Linked DNA regions of Homo sapiens: region 1 is linked to region 2. Evidence: fine-mapped expression QTL. A gene starts in region 2. The other region holds a variant in brackets. All regions are shown on one strand. Distances are between the middles of the regions. Region 1 has its middle 6.5 kb from the start of ZC3H11B. Region 2 holds the start of LYPLAL1-AS1 (LYPLAL1 antisense RNA 1).

Region 1 (5,385 bases), 62 kb after region 2:
CTAGAGCCCAGGAATTTGACACTGCAGTGAACTATGATAGCACTACTGTACTCCAGCCTGGTCTACAGAGCGAGTTTCTATCTAAAAAAATAATAATAATAAAATAAAATAGAATAAAAGGGTTACAATGTTTGACAAGGAGTGTAAGACATTGAGAATTTATTTGCTGAGACTTTATCTTCCTTGGAAACTACAGGCAGATAGCCCTGTCTTATTATAGTGGGGTCAATGACCTCATTTTTTGGTGGGTCTGAGGCCATCAACCCACACATTCTGGTCAAAAATATTTTCAGAAACCAATTTTTTTTTTTCAAAGAAAAGGCAGAAAAGAAACATTACAAAATGTTAAACTTAGTTGCCTTTGAATGCCAAAAATATGGATACATTTTCACTAACTTTCTATATTTCCAAATATTGTTTTATAAGTATTACTTTTGCAATGGAAAAATATAGCAAACATGTTATTATGGTCTGCATTTATTGGTAATGAAAAAATTTCCAGGGACAACAAATTGTTCTGTTGCACTCTTCTAACTTCTATAAATTTCTGTTACTTTTGCAAGAAAATTACTGCATATTCTAGTCTTTTCTATTAATAAACAAAATGTGCTTTCCTATACCACAAACTATTTTATCCCTGTTGGTTTTTTTTTTTTTTTTCCACTGCATGTGCTCAATACGTCAATGTTCCCTCCTACACACTGTAAGCCACACAGACCACAGCCACCTGGGGAAAAGGGATGGAGTCTTCTGATTGTGTCCACCTAGGGAAGGGATTCATTCTACTTCATCTCAGCCTAGTTCAGTCGCTAATATGCCCAGTTTGTTAATAGCCAAGGGGCTTTTACTCAAGAGGAAAGATCAAGTATCCCAAATAAGCATTAAAAAGGCAACTTAAAAATTATATACATTTATATAATAAATATATTAAAGAAATTCCCCTCCCTCTTCAAATTAAGTTTATCTTTTAAGCTGCTGACAACTGAAGATGCCACTCGATTATGACACAAAAGGAACTGAATATTAAAGGCAAAATTTGCAGCTCTTTACAGGCAAAAAAAGATTTTTCCATGATCCCTTTACACCTTCTTAAGGATTAATAAGCTTAAACACATGCCAATATGCTGCCATGTCAGAATTCAAACAGATGTGCTCAGGAGCAGAGCTTAGGCTTTGGGTTTGAAAATATTTTTGTCTTTCCCTCCTCAGTAAATCATAATTGAAAAATTATTATCAAAAGTATAACTGGTGTATGGCTTTTGGCCATCCTGTACGGTGTCATAAGCTATCTCTGTATTTGTAACAATCATCTCATTTCTTTAAAATAACTCTAAAAGCAATCTTTTAAATTCTTTCTGGCAAGCCCTCCACTTATTTCTTAGCTCAGTGAAGATAAAGTTGTTGTTTGAGAACCTGGAATCCAGCATCCCCTATGATCTAGGTAGCTTTTCTTATGTTCGTGCTGCTGGTGCCATATTATGGAGAGCCCGAATTATGATACTGCTACGTTCTGCCCTCCAACTGACTCAAAGAGGACCAGATGAGGAGTTTGTGTATGTATGTCCTTTAAATGTGAATTCTGTGTTACCTATGAGTACGTTCCAAATAACAAGTTAGTGGATCCTAAAGTCAGATGGAGAGCAGAGCAGATGGACTATTCAGGAAGGAGAAGGAAACACACATTTATTGAGCGTCTCTGAAGGGGGCCAGCCGCTCCACACCTGTGGGTATATCTCATCAGGTGGGATGAGAGACTGAGAAAAGAAACAAGATACAGAGACAAAATGTAGAGAAAGAACACTGGGCCCAGGGGACCGACGCTCAGCATACGGAGGACCTACACTGGCACAGGTCTCTGAGTTCCCTCATTATTGATTACCATTTTCACTATCTCAGCAAGAGGAATGCAGTAGGAGAGCAGGGTGATAGTAGAGAGAAAGTCAGCAAGAAAACATGTGAGCAAAGGAATCTGTGTCACAAATAAGTTCAAGGGAAGGTACTATGCCTGGATGTGCACATAGGCCAGATTTATGCTTCTGTCCACCCAAACTTCTCAGGGGAGTAAAGAGTAACAGAGCAGCAT[T/G]GCTGCCAACATGTCTTGCCTCCTGCCACAGGGCGGTTTTTCTCCTATCTCAAAATAGAACAAATGTACAATCGGGTTGTATACGGAGACATTCAGTTCCCAGGGGCAGGCAGGAGACAGAGGCCTTCCTCTTACCTCAACTGCAAGAGGCCTTCCTCTTTTACTAATCCTCCTCAGCACAGACCCTTCACGGGTGTCAGGCTGGAGGACGGTCATGTCTTTCCCATCCCATGAGGCCATATCTCAGGCTATCACATGGGGAGAAACCTTGGACAAATACCCGGCTTTCCAGGGCAGAGGTCCCTGCGGCTTTCCGCAGTGCATTGTGCCCCTGGTTTATCGAGAACGGAGAATGGCGATGACTTTTACCAAGCATACTGCCTGTAAACATTTTGTTAACAAGGCACATCCTGCACAGCCCTAGATCCCTTAAACCTTGATTCCATACAACACATGTTTTTATAAGCTCAAGGTGGGCGCAAAGTTACAGATTAACAGCATCTCAGGGCAAAGCAATTGTTCAGGGTACAGGTCAAAATAGAGTTTCTTATGTCTTCCTTTTCTACATAGACACAACCGTCTGATCTCTCTTTCTTTTCCCTACACATCTCCTATGTACCAAGTGCTGGAAATGAATGATGCTCTTGCCATTCATGGTTGACCAGCAGCATCAGCATCACCTGGGAGCCTTTAGAAACTCAGAATCTCAGGTGCCATCCAGACTTGCGTTTTAACAAGATCCGCAGCATTGCATTTATATCATTTCATCTGCATCAAAATCCTGGATAAGGATGGTATTATCTCCATTTTACATTAGGAAATTAAGGATCAGAAAGTTTAAGAAATTTGTATAAAAGTTACAAGATAATAATGAGTAAAGCTGGATTTGGGCCCATTTTAAAACTTACTATATTTCCACTCCACTAGGATAACTCCTAAACCAGACTAAAGCTATGAGACTTAGGTTTCAGTCCAGCTTCCACCATTAATATCTCCCTAGCCTCATACACTACAAGCCGGTTAACCTATCTGAGTCTCATTTTTTTGTCCTGTGTACTTCATGGAATTACTACAAAACAAATGAAATCAATACATGTGAAAACACTTTGTAAAATATATAGCACTGGCCAAAATTAATTTGTTAATGGAATCTTATTTGTGACTCTTTCTCATTCAGTTTTTTCCAAGACATAAAGACCAAGAACAAAACACCAGATGCCAAGGACCTTCACGTTACACAGAGAGAGGCTAAGCTGTCTATGTGGTTTTGAAACTGGCAGGTCAGCCTTAGCCCATCACCCAACTCTAGGGTATAAAACATTTGAAGTTAAAGGGACAGAAGAGTTTTCTCTAGAAAGTGTTTTTAATTGGGGGTGGGGAGACAGAATTTCTCCTGCATCTCAATCTACAGCAAGAGGCTCTAAGAAGACCACACAGAGAATTTATTTGTCCCCTGAAAGGAGACAACTTCATCTGGAAGGAGAAATCTACCATAAATCTCTCCTCCCCTGATGGCTTTCCAGGCTAAAATAATATTATGTTTTAGTATTGCCATGCTGATATTTAAACTGGACAGCAAATGTTAATTATGTATCTTGGGGCTAAAAGTGACTAGTGGACTTTTTAATTATCAAAAAGTGTCTGCAAAGTTAGGACCCTGCCCAAAATTTCAGCCAAAAAGCAAGGAAAAACTAATCCACAGATTTTGTCTAAAGGGACAGTGAGAAAAAAAATAATGTAGTTTGCTGCTTGCACCCAATGGAGAACCGCTCTTTCAATACCCTGGTTACTCTATTATTAGTACCATAAAAACCAATACTAGATAAACAGAAACAATGTTTCCAAAGCAAAAGTCTGGTTTCAAAGATAAAGGTTCGAAGAGAGAGGTGAAACAGGTGAGTCAGCTTTCCTAAATTACCTGCTGTTATCCTAAATCCAAAACCCTAAAGGGCATCCTAATCCATTGTCTGACAGCTGCTAATCAGCCAGATGTAGGAGAGGCTTCCCATCATGAATTGGGCCTAATTCAATTTTTCTGTGAGAAACTATAGAGGTTTAGAGCTGTAGAAAACTTCTTCCCCACAATCAAGTACTAATCCAGCATATGGCATAAGAAGATAGAAGAGCAGCCTCTGCACCCCTCGCAGAAATACCCAATGAGAATGGAGGTATTAGTCAGACTAGTTATGAAAGGAAAAGCTGAGAGCAGAAGTCTAGGCAGACCCAGCACACAGGTCCTGGGGATGTGGACACAGGATCAAGGTCACAGGTTGTTGGCTGTAGATACAGTCACACATGGGTAGCTGAGAAAAGGGGAGATCGATATATGGGTTGGAAAAAAGAAATGGAAAAGATCCAATTTGACCAAGGTGTCCAATTACCATGTGTGTCAGGATGACTTCTAATACATATCTGCATCCCAAACCTTTGTAGGAAGCTCAACGCCATAGATATCTTCTTTCTTTCTCTATCTTCTAATTCCAGCACCACTCCCAATCACTCTTATAGCCATCCAAAAGTCTAAGACTTTTAAAAATAGTCATAGTCTTAACATCCTTAAAATGCTTCCATGGCCTTCACAGCCTTTAGATAATGCCAGGGCTCCTTGGCTGGCCTCCAAGGTCTCTCGTAAACTGGCTCCTACTTACCTCATCTCTCACTGACTCCCATTCCACACCTCACAATCCAGCCAGATGGAACTGCTCAGTTTCCAAACACTTCTTACCTTTGAGCCTTAGCATTTTCTACTCTACAGAGTTTTCCAAGCTGGCTGATGATAAGAATAACCTGAAATGCTTTTTTTTTTTGATTTTTAATAAAATTTTTTTATGCAAAAATCCTCAATAAAATACTGGCAAACCGAATCCAGCAGCACATCAAAAAGCTTATCCATCATGGTTAAGTTGGCTTCATCCCTGGGATGCAAGGCTGGTTCAACATACGCAAATCAATAAATGTAATCCAGCATATAAACAGAACCAAAGACAAAAACCACATGATTATCTCAATAGATGCAGAAAAGGCCTTTGACAAAATTCAACAGCCTTTCATGCTAAAAACTCTCAATAAATTAGGTACTGATGGGACGTATCTCAAAATAATAAGAGCTATTTATGACAAACCCACAGCCAATATCATACTGAATGGGCAAAAACTGGAAGCATTCCCTTTGAAAACTGGCACAAGACAGGGATGCCCTCTCTCACCACTCCTATTCAACATAGTGTTGGAAGTTCTGGCCAGGACAATCAGGCAGGAGAAAGAAATAAAAAGTATTCAATTAGAAAAAGAGGAAGTCAAAT
Region 2 (5,385 bases):
TCTTAGCACAACCAAAAATGAGCTTTAGTTAATGTACTGAATTTTTCACAGTTCAACCAGTTGTTTTAGCACTGCACAGACACAAATGTGTACATTACTCCCCAGAAGAGCACCGTGTCCCCTGACAGTCTTATAGCTTAGAAGGAGGGAAATAGACAATATGAGGAGTACGTGTTGGATAAATCTAATATCTAATGTATTCCATGAGATGGTTTGCGTCTGAGCTCCACCACCTCTCATCAGTTAACTCTCGCATTCACTCACCCCACAATCAAATAATTCCCTTCTAATTCTCTTCTTTGATAGCAAGCCAACCCTGGGAGAAACAATGGTTTGGAACAATAGCACCTGAGGTGGAAGAAAACACAGTGGGCCTCTCACTTTCGCTCTCTAACCACAACAATTGAAAGAGACTATGGCCTGAAAAATCTATCTGCTCCTAAATGGTACCCAGATGGAAATCACAGCTGCTGTCATGTACCACCTGTACCTACGCCCATCCATCTTCAGAACACGCCTGGGGCAGAGGAGAGAAATCGAGTTGACAGAGCAGTTAAAGAGCCTCTCTTTTCTCCTGCATACTTTTCCTTTTATCTTTTTCTCTTCAGTTTCAGAGCTTCTTGTTCTCACCTTCATGCTGTGGCAATGCTGACAAAAGAAAACTGCAGCCTCTGAGAACCAGTGGTGAGTAATAGCCCCAGGCTCTGAATACCTAATGTCTATTGTATGTTGAGGGGAGGGAGAGCCAAAGGGAGGAGAGGAATTTGGTCAAATAGCCTGTGTAGAAACAGGACCTTTCGGTGACAATCCTAAATGCATCCAGAGAGTATCTGAGTTTTGATACCTCTCCTCTAATTAAATCCAAGGATCTAATATGCATGGCCTTTAGGAATGCGTTGTTCAAACAGATTTGATTCCTGCCCAGAGGCTTTTTAAGCCACTGACCACTTTGAACCTAATTAGAAAAAGCAGAGGACACTGGAGACGTTTAATAAAAGGAATCGAATTGCTGCTTCATCTTCATGACCTGGGATTTATAAGGGAATTTCACTGGCTTTGTAGCAATGTAAAATAAATAGACATTAGATGATGACAGGGAAAACAAAATTGCTGCCAAAGCTAAAAAGAGCTTGGCAAAAGAAGAAAGAACTACTACATAGTTGGTCATTATTTACTGTACAAACCTTTTCATAAAGCAGAGAAGAGAGATACATAGGAATAATGGGCCCTTGCTAAAAGATGAAAAGGGCTTTCTATAGCTTACATTATCCCCTGACGAAGGCACTGACGTGTCCCAGTTGTTACACAATCTTATTGTTCTATTCAGCCATTCAGAAAGCTGAATGAACAGCCCTGCTCTGAAACTTTTAAAGGCTGAAATCAACAGGCCACTCATTTCCAAGGAAAAGAATAAAATTGTAACGGATGGAAATAACTAATTAATTTGTTAATCTTTGCAGACTGCCACGGTCCATTGCATATGCTCTAACCAGTTAATTAGTCTTTAGCCTGTAATTCTAAAATGTAAATAAGTGCAGTTACCTAACCCACCAGCTCCTAACAAAAATATCCAACTATTCATTATTTAATTTAAAAGGAAGAAGGCTTTGCTTTTCATTGGTGGTGGTGTTCCTGAGATGTTAACTAAACACCGTGACCTAAGTTTAATTTCATCACACCTTACTGAAATGGTTTTATTCTAAAGTATATGCCCCTCTCCCCACTCCAGAAAGCTAAAATCATGAGGCTTAACTAAAGTCAGATCTATCCAATCCAACAGGAGATTATTTTTAGATGTTAATGAAGGAAAGGGTTTTTGTAAACTGTAAAGTGCTGGTAGCTATAAACCACTATAACTGTAAACTTGAACAAAAGTACATTATTTATTGATGTTAATTAATAGTCTATTATTCTATTAGATTGCATTTCAGTCACTAAAATCATTAGTAGACTCATTCAGCCTTTCAAATGTGTGTGAGAGGTAGGAAGGAGATCGGTGGGATAGGGCAGAAAGTGGAAGCAAATGCGTTCCTATGGCATTTGAGAAACACGGAAGAAAGTCCTAAAATGTATCCAAGAGAATCACAGCAAGGGACTCCTCTAGCGAAGAAGAGGACATTGATCCCATGAGCTGTACTGGTATCTTTTATAGTATCCAAAGCAGAGCAAATCCCCAATTAATTAGGGTGGTCAGAAAATGGTGGGTTCTTATTATTTCCCCTCTAAAGCACTGTGGGGCCCTATAAAGACTGAGTACCCAACTGGCCCTGCATCTTTGTGATCACAGGGCCTTGAGCAAGATACTCATCCTCTCAAAATGTCTTTGTTTGTTTTTGAATGTTTATAAGAGACTATCTGAAATTGGATAATTTATAAGAAACAAAATTTATGTCTTACAGTTCTGGAGACTGAGACATCCAAGGTTGGCGGGGGGCACATCTGGTGAGAGAGAGCCTTCTTGCTGGTGGGGACTCTGAAGTGCCCCACAGGGTATCCCATGGAGAGGGAGCTGAGGGTGCTCCCATGTGCCCACTTAGCACTCTCTTCCTCTTCTTATAAGCCACCAGTTCCCTTCCCATGATAACTCATTAATCCATTAACCCATTAATTGAAGAATGGATTAATCCATCCATGAAGGCCAAGCCCTCATAACCAATCACCTCGTAAAGGCCCACCTCTCAATACTGCCACATTGGGGATTAAGTTTCAACATGAGTTTTGGAGAGGACATTCAAACCACAGTACTAAGCCAATGCTTCTTCCTCTACAGGGAAACTGGGAAACTGACACTTCCTGCCTTATATTGTTGCAGTTGCAAAGATCAAATACCAAGGTTATGGGAAGATGTTTTGAAGCCCCATATAAATATGTAATTTAATTTATTCCAATAAAGACTCATTGCACAGGCTGGGCACAATGGCTCACACCTCTCATTTCAGCTCTTTGGGAGGTCAAGGTGGGCCGATTGCTTGAGCCCAGGAGTTCGCGACCAGCCTGGGCAATATGATGAAACCCCATTTCTACAAAAAAAATACAAAAATTAGCTGGGTGTGGAGGTGTGCATGCTTGTAGTCCCAGCTACTTGAGAGGCTGAGTGGGAGATCGCTTGAGCTTGAGAGGCAGGGATTGCAGTGAGCCGAGATTATGCCACTGCACTCCAGCCTGGGCGACAGAGCAAGACCATGTGTCAAAAACAAACCAACCAACAAACAAACAAAGACTCATTGCACATATAAGCAATAGATCAACCATTTTCAAAGAGCATAACCAAAAAAAAAATCCAACACTACACAAATCTTGAATATAATTTAACCTTTCTTCGAAAGTTTAGAAAGTATTTCAAGATGAGGCAATGCTTTTCTCTAACATTAACATGAGCATCGATTACAGAAATGTTCCACTGAATTACATGGCAAAATTAAAATTCTGATGATTTTATGTACATGGTTGCTTGAAATATGAGCTATCAGTAGCTACTATATCCCATTAGGCCTTTCAAGTTCACATCATAAGTTGTATAAGAGATAGGACACCTCCATTGAAAACATCAGTCGACTTAGACGATTTCTGTCAGATATTATTGATTCAGCAATATAAGAATGCGACGATGTAGTCCCAGCTACTGGGGAGGCTGAGGCAGGAGAATGGCGTGAACCTGGGAGGCAGAGCTTGCAGTGAGCCTGGGAGACGGAGCTTGCAGTGAGCCGAGATCGCGCCACTGCACTCCAGCCTGGGTGACAGAGCAAGACTTCGTCTCAAAAAAAAAAAAAAAAAAAAGTCAACGAAAGGACATGGGTTTGGAGAGTAACCAGAGATGCTGCCAATTAAAGATACCCCTTACTCAAGACACTTTATTTCTCTCTGTTGGAACATTGTCATAATATACTGTCATCTACTAAAAAATTACTGTAATAAATATAAAAATCTTCACTGTCTGCCATGACAGGAACCGCATGAGCTGTTATGCCCTTCTGCAACGCAGAACTTTCCCAACCATATATGGTGGCCCTGAGATGTGTAGTTTTGCCCTTTACACCTTTATTTTCTATTAGTACATTTACTTTTTAAAAAAGTATGAACTATCATTTGCAATTTGAAAAACATCAAATACAGAACATTTAAAAAATATATCGCTAGACCTCAAAATGAATCTTAATGGCAATCACAGATTTCAACCCTTTCAACCAGATTTCTGAGTGTCTGAACATAGATGTAGGCTCTGAGACTATGATTTCTAGCTTGTTTTTCCTAAATATTCACTGTGTAATTGGGACACTATCACTTAGCCCCTTTGTTCCTTATTATATCATTTATAAATTTTATAACTATATTTTAATAAAGGTACTTAATATCTAGATAATAGATAAATGGTTTGTCTATAATCCCTAATTTATATACAATAAGTCTACCAACTTTTATGGTAGAACTTCATAAGTTTTAAACTAGTATAATATTTAATTTTTAGTATATAAACATCTGATGTGGTTTGGCTGTGTCCTCACCCAAATCTCTCCATGAATTGTAATAATCCCCAGGTGTCAAGGGCAGGGCCAGGTGGAAATAATTGAATCACTAGGGCGGTTTCCCCCATACTGTTCTCATGGTCCTGAGTAAGTCTCCTGAGATCTGATGGTTTTATAAATGGGAGTTTTCCTGCACTAGTGCTCTTGCCTGCTGACATGTGAGATGTGACTTTGCTCCTCATTCACCTTCCACCATGATTGTGAGGCCTCCCCAGCAATGTGGAACTATGAGTCAATTAAACCTTTTTCCTTTATAAATTACCCTGTCTCGGGTATGTCCTTATTAGCAGCATGAGAACAGACTAATACAATATCCCATCAAATTATAAATGAATCTGAGGCTCTGATTCAGACAAAGGATGGATGGATTGGTAGTCACATTTATCTATAGAATAAAACTGGAATGACATACAGTACAATGTTTCAGTGATTCATGAATGGTTGGGATATGGCAGTTTTAATTTTCATATTTGTACATTTCTGTATTTGGTGAATTTTGTATAATGATCATGAATTGTTTCTGTTGAGAATGTTGTTGGAACAGTTGGGCTGGGAAAATCTCTACCTCCCACAAAGTATTTTGGAGAAAGGAACTGTGAACAGCCTGGAGGAAAATTTAATATTTAACTCAAACAAGTGGCATCCACTATATTCACACTGGCAGAGCTTTTCAGAATTAGAGTCTTGCTTTCTTTTTGTAAGCATCAGGATTGATTTTTATATGTGTTCTAATCTTAGTTTAGTCCTTTAACCATTTTTCCCAGGATAATAGAAATGAAAGAATGTTGTATTTTGGCTTGCTGAGTTAGAATGAATGGAAAAAACTTAAAGGAAGCAGCAGAAGGAACAGTGAGAATGACAT

What was found. PIP is the estimated chance that this variant, and not a neighbour inherited with it, causes the effect.
Region 1: its variant is fine-mapped to the expression of LYPLAL1-AS1 in unexposed skin (GTEx, PIP above 0.99).

Annotation. Positions count from the first base shown.
Region 1 is chr1:219,616,882-219,622,266 of GRCh38, forward strand. No RefSeq gene overlaps it. Among named protein-coding and RNA genes, the nearest start is that of ZC3H11B, 6.5 kb to the left of the region's middle. The variant T/G (reference allele first, on the strand shown) is at 2,084.
Region 2 is chr1:219,554,794-219,560,178 of GRCh38, forward strand. It overlaps LYPLAL1-AS1 (LYPLAL1 antisense RNA 1), which reads right to left and starts at 2,531. Exons shown (of 4, transcript NR_135822.1): 1 at 2,398-2,531. LOC124904514 (a long non-coding RNA gene) reads left to right here and starts at 607. Exons shown (of 2, transcript XR_007066882.1): 1 at 607-684; 2 at 2,400-2,914. RefSeq lists an enhancer at 221-920.